2 separate regions of the Homo sapiens genome follow, and region 2 is linked to region 1. Evidence: fine-mapped expression QTL. A gene starts in region 1. The other region holds a variant in brackets. All regions are shown on one strand. Distances are from middle to middle.

Region 1 (5,381 bases):
TGAGCATGTTTAGCTAATGAGCGCACGCTGAGAGCAAGAGAAGGCGTGGTTGTTGTCGAGAGTCCTAAGCAGGTGGGAGACACAGGGTGAGACACAAAGCCGAGGTAGGAGGTGGCCTCTTGACAGGAAGAGGGCACCTCTTCTTGAGTCGAAGACAATGCTTGGAACTGGTAGGGAGTGTGGGCAGAAAGATGGGATCTCCCCCATTTCTTTGCAAGGCTGTGTTATTGTAGAACCTTTAGTCACACTCCTGGACTCTGACTGAAAGGGTCCTGGGTCTTGGCCTCTGTGTTAACAGTTTGCTTCATAGGGAGGATTGAGGATCCATCCCTTCCTCTCCTGGCTATAGAACTAGAAAAGAACCTCTACACCAGTGGTCCCTAATGTATTTGGCACCAGGGACCAGTTTCATGGAAGACAATTTTTCCATGGACCGGGAATGAGGGGATGGAGATGATTTCAGGATGAAACTGTTCCACCTCAGATCATCAGGCATTAGACTCTCATAAGGAGCATGCAGTGTAGATCCCTCGCGTGCACAGTTCACAATAGTGTTCATGCTCCTATGGGAATCTAATGCCACAGCTGATCTGACAGGAGGCAGAGCTCAGATGGTCATGCTCCCTTGACTGCTGCTCACCTCCTGCTGTGCAGCCTGGCCTCTAACAGACCATGGACAGGTACCTGTCCATGGCATGGGGGCTGGGGACTCCTGCTTTACACTTATGATGTAGTTTGGATGTTGTGCCCACCCAAATCTCATGTTGAGATGTAATTTCCAGTGTTGGAGGTGGAGCCTGGTGGGAAGTGATTGGATCTTAGGGGCAGATTTCTCATTAATGGTTTGGTACCATCCTGTTAGTGCTGTTCTCATGATAGTGAGTGAGTTCTTTTATTTATTTGTTTATTTTAAGACAGAGTCTCACTCTGTTGCCCAGGCTGGAGTGCAGTGCAGTGGTGCGGTCTTGATCTTGGCTCACTGCAACCTCTGCCTCCCAGGTTCAAGCACACCACCACGCCCGGCTAATTTTTGTATTTTTAGTAGAGACAGGGTTTTGCCATGTTGGCCAGGCTGGTCTCAAACTCCTGACCTCAGGTGATTCACCCTCCTCAGCCTCCCAAAGTGCTGGGATTATAGGCATGAGCCACAACACCCAGCTGATAGTGAGTTCTGGCAAGCGCTGGTCATTTAGAAGTGCCCCCTGTCTGTCTTGCTGCTGCTCTGGCCATGTGACTCATCTGCTCCCACTTTGCCTTCCACCATGATTGTAAGTTTCACGAGGCCTCCCCAGAAGCCGAACAGATGCCAGTATCATGCTTCCTCCATAGCCTGCAGAACCATGAACCAATTAAACCTCTTTTCTTTATAAATTACCCAGTCTCAAGTATTTATAGCAATGCAAGAATGGACTAATACAACTTAACTTTCCTGAGGCTGTTGTCGCTGTTGGGCATTGAAGAGTTTCTAGAAGTCCCTGTTTCTTTATGTGGCATGCAATGGATCATCAGAATAATTAACCCAGTCAATGGTAAACAAAGTGATGGATGGATGCCATCAGATCACAAAAGTTTCTATTACTGTAAATACAAGGGGGTAAGTAAATCAAAATAATGTTTCAAATCCTCAGTAGGCCTCTTTTTCTGTTTCTAATTGAAGATTGTCACATCAACACATAAACAAAAATGCCTGTGAGGGAAATGTGTATTTTATGCATTGCATTTTTATATCTGAAGTTTATTTCTATTACTAACTTGAAATGCTGAGGAAGGGATTTGTTTTGGTGCTTACAAAATTCTCCCATTTGCTCTTCGGACTCTCACAAGTTGACAACAAATTACTGCCCTGATAGTATGGTGAGACTGAGGGTTTTTTGTCTTTTTCTCTTATTCTAGAAAACACTGTATCCTCTATATGGAGGGAAATTTCTGGTTTGATTAACACTGTAAATAATTATGAGACAAAGCCTAAATATAAAAGATTACTCACACAGGCTCTTACACTGAGTAAGATATTATGTGTTAAAAATCAGGGTTAATAGTTTAACAGGCACATTATGGTTCAGAAATCCCCTGGGGGACTTCAACCATCTTTTCTGGATGTTCACTTTGCCAAATAGGCTGCCTCTATGTCATATCTCTACCTGAAGGGCAGGCTCAGACACTGATTCGGGGAAGTGTCACCCTTACTATACCAAGAAGTCAGACATCCAAGGTCAGACACTACGTAAAGTCAGATACTTCAAGGGCTTTCCTTGGAAGGGAGGATGAAAAGGGAAGGGTGGGAACATCAGCTCAGGTGAGACATATGAATTCAACAAAACATCAGGGATGGTTTGCCACGTTTGCGAGCAGCACAGAAAACGGCAGTTTGCTCCAAGTTCCCAGCACACCAAAGGGGGCAGTAGTGCGTCTGTAAAGCGCGTTGTCAACTTGGTGATAATTTCTGTTTGCATTCACACTCGCCGGCTGATAATCTCAGCTGCTCGATGCAATTCAACAGATAACAATGCGGAAGTTTGGTCTAAAGCTACCTGAAATCACTTCCAAGAGCTCTTCAGATAAAGCTGCCTTTGATAGTCTTCATTAACCCCTCCCATATTTGCCCCTCAGCGTCCCTTGGCTTAGCAGCCCCGGCCTTTGAAGTCCAACCTAAGCATTCTTAGATGGTGAGTGAGGGTCTGCCTTCCCCAGCACCAGCCACCTAGTCAGGCTTGTGGCTCGTCTAACAAACTGGAGCCTGAGATTCTGAGAAAACGAAACCAAACAGTTGTACTCCGGGGTTAACACAGAGCAACTTCCACCTGCTGTGCGAGTTGGTGATCCTCTCTCTTGCCGTTCGAGAGCCCCAGTGAAACTTGAGTGAGATGAGAGAGCATGGAGCCTGCCAGTCTCCCCCTCTGCGCACACACACACGCAAACACATTTAACTTTCCACTTGCAGTGACCTGCCCTTCAGTGTGACTTATCAGCTGTTTGGCTTTTGTCACTAAAGGAAAACAAATTGTGGAATATCCCGCTCTGCATGCTCATGAGATGGCTGAGCCAACTCAGGGGTTATGAGGTGGTTTGCGAGTGAGGAGAAGAATGATCTTCAGTTTCTGACCTCCTGGCACGGTGGCGGGCGGTATTTATCAGGAGGTACATGTGACTGGTTAAGACTCAGAGCCCCAGCTTGAAGGAAACAGCTGCTCTCGGCGTGCTCCGGCACTTGGCAGCTGGACAGGCAGAGTGCTGATGTGAAAAATACCACGACAAAACCACCCTAGTAAGTAACTGGAGAACTTTCCTCTCTCTCTCTCTCTTTCATTCCCTCTCCGTGTGTGTGTGTGTGTGTGTGTGTGTGTGTGTGTGTGTTGCAAGCCACCAACAACTTTTGATTTTGATTTTGGTTTCCCTCTGGCACGATAGAAGGAGATATTTTATTTGTACCTGTTAACAGCCATTGGTGTTTTCACAGCCCTTTTTTAGAACCTGTTATTTTCGGCAACGTGTCTTGTAACTTTGAGGATGAATGGGGCATATGGCTTCATTCCTGTCTAGGAAACAGAAAGTTTGTTTCCCAGTGTTCAAGATTTTTCTAGTCCATGGTGTTTAGGTTCAAAGTCAAGTTCAGGTTATGAAGTAGAGACTTCATTGAAGTGAGTTGATGACTAGATTTGATTTTAATCTGTTTCTACCACTGAAACCTGAAAACGTAGTTGTTTAAAGTAACTTGTGAATTTATTGTATGGCTGATTTGATTTTTCCTATTCAATTTTTGAGAATATCTCATTTAACTGTGTAGAACTGTCTGCAATATAGAAGACTGACAAAATAATATTTAGATTCACATTAGAAATCATATTTAGATTTCTTGCATGGTTTCCAACTAATTGAAAGCTGTATTTTATAGCGACTTTTTTTCCCCCCAACAAGCTAATTCACCTTCATTACTTTAAAATGTTCAGTTGCCCCTGGTCTTCCTTCACCTTCATTACTTTAAAATGTTCGGTTGCCGCTGGTCTTCCTTATTTTAGTGTTTTCGTGATACTCAGGCTGTTTTTTCCTTGTTTATGACCTGACTGGGAAAGTGCTGCCTGCAGCTGATGATTAACTCTGGGAGGCCTGGCATCCAAATTACGGAGAGAACCGGCTCCTTCTCAGGTTCATTCAGCAGTAATGGTGCTTGCGCTTGGGCGAGCAGCAAAGCAGGCACCATGCTGGAACTGAGCTGTTGTTCGGTGACTTTTGTCCTTCCTTGGTAGTCACCAGACAGAATGCTTCAGAGGAAAGGCAAAAGGGGAAAAGAGAGAGGGCAGAGCTCTAAACTGATGACGTAAAGCTCTGAAAGTGACAGGTCTTTGAATCAGAGGCTGCAGGGAGATAACCAAACAGGTTCCTGTTTCTGGAGATCGCGTGGATCTTGAGGAGGGTGGGCAGAGAGGGGCTGTTTTTATTTGAAGTCTCACCAAATAGTTGTTTTGCTTGTGATAAGCCTAGGACAACCTGGAGTGCGCTTGTTTCCTCGTGTGACAAATGGATTCTCATACAGGCTCAAGCTATACGGTTTTCTTTCGCCCTCTGCCCCCTGCCATGAGGGAACACTGTTCTCTCCCCACCCTTACCATCCTTTGTTGTTTGTGGAGAATGGATTAAAAATGACCCAGGGCACGGCACTTCTGCGATCGAGTTTCCCTCAGCACAGTGGGTCTTGAGTACCGCACCAACCAATGTTCTCTGATGGAAGCAGTTTCGGATGCCCTGTCTAAACAAATGGCTAGTCTGACATTGAGAAGTTCTCCACCTTCTTTTCCTTCAAATGTAGAAGAATCCACAAAATGTAGAGTGGCCAATGAGGAAAAATAGTCCCAACTTCTCTGTTCCTCGGTATGGCATTTGTGTGAGGTCCTTGGGTCAGCCCGCGGCCATGTGGTCTGTGACTTCCCTGTCTGACTGCTGGGGGAGGGGGTTCCTCCTGAGTCATTCTTTAGGGAGTTTGTTCCTGGTATAGTTTCAGATTTTCCACAGGTTGATAGTGGAAGAGAACCCTCTGGTGAAATTGTGTCTCCGGAATCATCGAGCCTCCCATAATAAAATGGAATGTCTAAATGGGAGCAGTTGAATTATCCAACTGCTGTATTTTTGAGAGCCAACAGGCTCCTTTGAAAAACCCATGCCTTTTCAAAATATTAATAGCAAAATAATAAAAAATAATGATTTTACTTGCAGATAGTACATCCATTGACTCAAAGACTTTTTGACCTGGATAGGAATGATAGAATGTGCGATTTAACTCTTTCGTATCAAAGATGAGGAAACTGTAGCAAATTTATCGGAGTTACGGTGCAGAGCCAGAAGAGAGAGCTCAAGGCTTCCATCATAATTTCAACGCTAATAACAAT
Region 2 (5,381 bases), 47 kb after region 1:
CTCATCTCTCCAAGCTTCAGTTTTTTTTATTTGTAAAATGTGGACGATACCTTTCTCATGAGATTATTATGAACATTCAATAAGGACACAAGATAGCACATGAAAGGATTTGGCATGCAATAGATGCTCAGTGTTAGTTACTGAGTCTGAATCTACTTAATGTCTCTTACACCTTCACTGATTAAAGTGTGGTCTGCAGACCAGCAGCATTGGCGTTACCTGGGAGCTCATTAGGAATGCAGCCTCTAGGCCCCACCTTAAACCTGAATTGGAATCTGCACTTTAAAGATCCCCAAGTGATTCACATGCAAGCTTGAGAAGCTCTGTACCATGGTGCTGCTGAGGTTGGCCTCAGAACAACAGCCTTATGGTGGTTGACCATAGATGTGCCAGGAGCTGGTTAGCTCAGTTATTAGGTAACCGGTGCAATTAGGCCACTTTCATATCAACTAGGTAACTTTGCACAGGGAAGACTATTTGATGATCCTAAATATGGCTATCCATCTTGCAAATGTCTGTTCTTGTGTGTTACGTATTCATAGTCTACTCTGTTTTCCACTGTCGATTACTATTGAATACTTCTTCAATAGTAATCAATAGTGAATGATCCAGGAATTATAAGGGATGTTTGGTGAAAATACATATTATTCAGGATCATTCCTAATAAGTCAGAACCTCTGGCAGCGAGGCCCAGGCCTCTGTCTTTATAACAAGCTTTTCAGATAGTTCATGTTATACTAAAGTATGAGAACCACAGCTTCTAGTGGTTTCCATGTGTCTTAAATCACCACCTATATCCTGATAAACTCCCAAATTTATATACTAGCCCCGACCTTTCCTGTATGATCCAGACCTTGCCGGTCACAAAGACACTAAGTAAGAAATTCTGGATGGTTCAGTGCAAAACCTACCCTGTCTGGAAAAACAACTGCAAGTTTATGTTCTGTTGGCAACTGGTCAGTGGTTTTCTCTTCCAATATGAAAGACAGGGCATGTATTTTGCACAAGTCCCTGGAAGCAAGCCAAGAGTTGCAGAGTCAGTAGGTTAATAACTTCCATTGAGTGAAATGGGCTTTCAACACATTGACCGGACTCACTCTTCTTTTATAGTCCTTCCTATGACTGGATGAGAAGAGTCACACAGAGGAAAAAAGTATCCAAGAAGGGAAAAGCCTGTCTGCTGTTTGACCATCTGGAGCCCATTGAATTGGCTGAGCACCTCACTTTTCTGGAGCATAAATCTTTTAGAAGGATCTCAGTAAGAAACTTGACATTTATTCTTCCAAGGATAACAACCACCATGCCAACTTTCCCAAGAGCTGCATTTTCATACTCTGAAGTGTTGGCAGCTTCTATCACTGTGCTCTGCTGGAGAAGTGCCCTTAATTCACAGGAACAATCCCTTTTAACCAAAGATAAATATTATCCTGTCTTTATTTTATGGCTCAGGAGCTATATTTCTGTCGCTATTTTCAATGTCTCCTTTCATAGGATTAAAGCGTGATTTTTCTAAACAGTCAGTGGAGATTTAACCATTCAAGGTTGATTTAGCTCCATTGACTTCTCCCAAGTGAACATGTTTTGCTAGGCCCTTCGTTTTTGGGAAAAAATATTTAGTTAGGTTCGGATTTGTATAAATGGCTAATTATGGGTATAGGTTGAAAATAGGAATTGTAGACTTTAAGGAGAATCTCAACATCAGGTTGTTTCTTTCCCAGAGATAGAGATCCTGAATTAAACTTTTCTTTCCTACTCATCTTGATGGAGCCTCATTCCTTCTCTAACTCCCCCTTTTCTTTCTCTGGTCTGTGATTTCTTAGCCTCCTGCTCTCTCTCCTCCCGTTATGGTAAACATTTTCCACACTGGTTCACAATCAGCCAGCCACTTTGCTTTGTCTCGCCAAGCTGTGGGGAAGTCGCTCCTCCTCCTTTTCCAAGGTGTCAGAGAATGAATTACATTATTGCGTGCAAAGAAGACTGTCTTGGTTAGAAGCATGAATTTCTGAAAGACTGATTCTTTCACTAAGTAATCCTACTTGGAGAGGACCTTAACAATTCCCCACAGGCAGGCCATGGGAGTCCCCTGCACAGTTTATATGATAGAAAGCTCTTATGTATTTTTTGACATCCATGCTAACATTCTGAAAATGTGTTTGCCTTGCTAAAGAGCAGCCTTACTTCAATTAATTTTTTTTCTTCTGTCTTCTTTTTCTTGAAACAACTTTACAACTGATGCTAACTTGAAATAATTATATTTACGTTCATTTCCTCGTCTTTATTGTATACCGTTATATCTTTAACTTGCCTGATTGGAATCACCAGCAGTGTGTTAAAAATGGAGATTCTTGGCCGGGCGCGCCTTTAATCCCAGCACTTTGGGAGGCCAAGGTGGGCAGATCATGAGGTCAAGAGATCGAGACCTTCCTGGCCAACGTGGTGAAACCCCATCTCTACTAAAAATACTAAAAAATTTAGCCAGGTGTGGCAGCTTGCACCTGTAGTCCCAGCTACTCAGGAGGCTGAGGCAGGAGAATTGCTTGAACCTGGGAGGCGGAGATTGCAGTGAGCCGAGATCGCGCCACTGCACTCCAGCCTGGCAATAGAGCGACAGTCGGTTAAAAAAAAAAAAAAAAGGAGATTCTTAGGTTTTTCTTCTGAAGATAGTGATCATTTACACCTAGAGTGTTCCCAGGAACCAGCATTTTACCAAGTGCCACAGGTGAATCTTATCACCTAGTAAATTTTGAACTCATTGGAATACAACTTTGAATCTTGCCTCTTTCTCCTCCCACCAAAGCTGTGATGTGTAGTAGTGGGTGTCTTTGCGTGGGGTGAGTAGTGGGGTTTGAAAAGCAGCAAAATAACATTTTAAAGACACATGTATATTCAAACTTTTAGGATGCCATTGTAAATGTGAAATAAAAGAAATTGTGTTGTTACGAAACAATATCTCACCTTTTCTATGCAATATTCTAATTTTTGATTTTACAAAGGCTCTATT[A/G]TAATTCAGAGTCTCTGAATCTTCCTTTCCTAGTTCACTGATTACCAAAGCTATGTCATCCATGGCTGCCTGGAGAATAATCCAACCTTGGAAAGATCGATTGCTTTATTTAATGGAATCTCTAAGTGGGTCCAGTTGATGGTTCTTAGCAAACCAACCCCCCAGCAAAGGGCAGAAGTCATCACAAAGTTTATCAATGTTGCAAAGGTATGTCTGGTAATCAGACTGGGTTCTTGAGTTCTAGATGTTCGTTCACTCTGTTGAGAAAAGTCATTGAGGAAATGTGGCGTTCACAGTATAAGGGCATCGGACAACTAAACTACTCGCTGATATCTAATGAACAAATCGTATTTTTGTCATGCAAGAAGATTGCTTTCAGAAAGCAATGCTTAGAAGCATTTAATGTAGCTATTTCTCTGTGAAATAATAGATATATTTCTCTGATTCTATTTGTGCTTCATTTTAAATTGATGTAATGTTTTCCTTAGCTTCTTGTTATTAAAATTGTGCATAAATTTACTTGTAATTCAGAAAGTTTAGAATAATTTGAAAATCCTTAAAAAGCATTGATGCATTTTTATTGCAGAAGCTCCTTCAGCTCAAAAATTTTAACACCCTGATGGCAGTGGTGGGAGGCCTCAGTCATAGTTCCATTTCACGCCTCAAAGAGACCCATTCTCATCTTTCTTCAGAAGTTACAAAGGTATAGTAGACTTGATCCTAATCAAAAGTAAAAAAATGCATTTGTAAATTGTTCAGGTTTAGTATACGCCTAACAAATGTCACTCAGAGTGGGAAAGTTTTCCTCTTAAACCAGTGGTAGGTTATAAATGGGGACAAAGTAGAAAGGGAATAACCACACCAGCTGAGTCCACCTGGAAAAACAGGTTGGAGGTGGTGGTAAGTGTCCTAGGAAGAATGCTTTGACATACCATTAGAATACTGTAGTGGTGGCCGGGCACGGTGGCTCACACCTGTAATCCCAGTACTTTGGGAGGCTGAGGCGGGCGGATCACAAGGTCAGGAGATCTATACCATCCTGGCTAACGTGGTGAAACCCCGTCTCTACTAAAAATACAAAAAAAATTAGCCGGGTGTGGTGGCAGGCACCTGTAGTCCCAGTTACTGGGGAGGCTGAGGCAGGAGAATGGCATGAACCTGGGAGGCAGAGCTTGCAGTGAGCCGAGATCACCCCACTGCACTCCAACCTGGGCGATAGAGCGAGACTCCATCTCAAAAAAAAAAAAACCAAAAAAAAAAAAAAAAACTCAACATATTGTAGTGGTAAATATTCAACAGGTATCTATTTGGTCCTACTATGTGATAGGCATTGTGATACACAAGGTAAATAAGACAGAAATAGTTCCTACCCTACCTCCTGAAATAAAGTCATTGAATGACTATTCATAACACTGTGTTGGGCACATCAGAAGATAGAAAGGGGAAGACATAGGCCTTGTATAGAAATCCTCAGATTTATAACTGAATTGTCATGAATATATATATATATATTAGAAACAGTGATCATTTTCCAAACTGAGCGTTTCTGCCACATTTATTTTCATGACATGATAGTTGTTTTTCTTCTTGAGCAAAAAGGAGCATTTCATCCTTATGAAAAGATTCTCATATAAGAGTGCACTTTGCTACTTCAATAAGGACACTTTTAGCTGTGAGTTTAAAAGAAAAAGAAAAAAACTTCTACAGCAATTAAACAATAAGCAAATGTATCGTCCATCAGGCGTGGTGGCTCACACCTGTAATCTCAGCACTTTGGGAGGTGGAGGTGGGAGGATTGCTTGAAGCCAGGAGTTCGACACCAGCCTGGGTAACATAGCTAGATCCTGTCTCTACAAAAAAAAAAAAAAAAAAAAAAAAAAAACTAGCCAGGTGTGGCAGTGTGTGCCTGTAGTCCCAGCTATTTGGGAGGCTGAGGTGGAATGATCACTTGAGCCCAGGAGTTTGAGGCTGCAGTGAGCCAGGATCATACCACTGCACTCCAGCCTGGGGGACATACCTGGAAGTCCAGAGACAGAGCAGGCACGGTCTGATCAGACCTCTGACTCAGGTGCTCCGCCCGCCTCTGAATATCGGAGAGTTTTGTTTTTTTGTTTGTTTCATCAAACTGTTTCTCTCCTAATTGGGCTGTATGTAGCAACCGAAAAATTACGTTCCCTTGTTCATGAAAGTTGAAGATAGGGAAGACTACTCACTTCAACTCTTCACCCATAGAATTAAAGACCTTTTGAGCCAACTCAGGTCTTAGGTCCATCCCTGGACCAATAACAGTTGCCAGAGTAATACAATGTACTGATTGGCTTAACCCTGAGTTCCTGAACTAATCACAAACTAGAAGGATGCAATTACTCTGATGATAAAT

What was found. PIP is the estimated chance that this variant, and not a neighbour inherited with it, causes the effect. A credible set is the group of variants that fine-mapping cannot tell apart.
Region 2: its variant is the best candidate, but not a certain one, in a credible set for the expression of RASGRP3 in thyroid (GTEx, PIP 0.50).

Annotation. Positions count from the first base shown.
Region 1 is chr2:33,473,443-33,478,823 of GRCh38, forward strand. It overlaps RASGRP3 (RAS guanyl releasing protein 3), which reads left to right and starts at 3,207. Exons shown (of 18, transcript NM_001139488.2): 1 at 3,207-3,265. RefSeq lists an enhancer at 2,543-2,862.
Region 2 is chr2:33,520,845-33,526,225 of GRCh38, forward strand. It overlaps RASGRP3 (RAS guanyl releasing protein 3), which reads left to right. Exons shown (of 18, transcript NM_001139488.2): 7 at 1,111-1,258; 8 at 3,035-3,208; 9 at 3,588-3,704. Among named protein-coding and RNA genes, the nearest start is that of RASGRP3-AS1, 46 kb to the right of the region's middle. The variant A/G (reference allele first, on the strand shown) is at 3,002.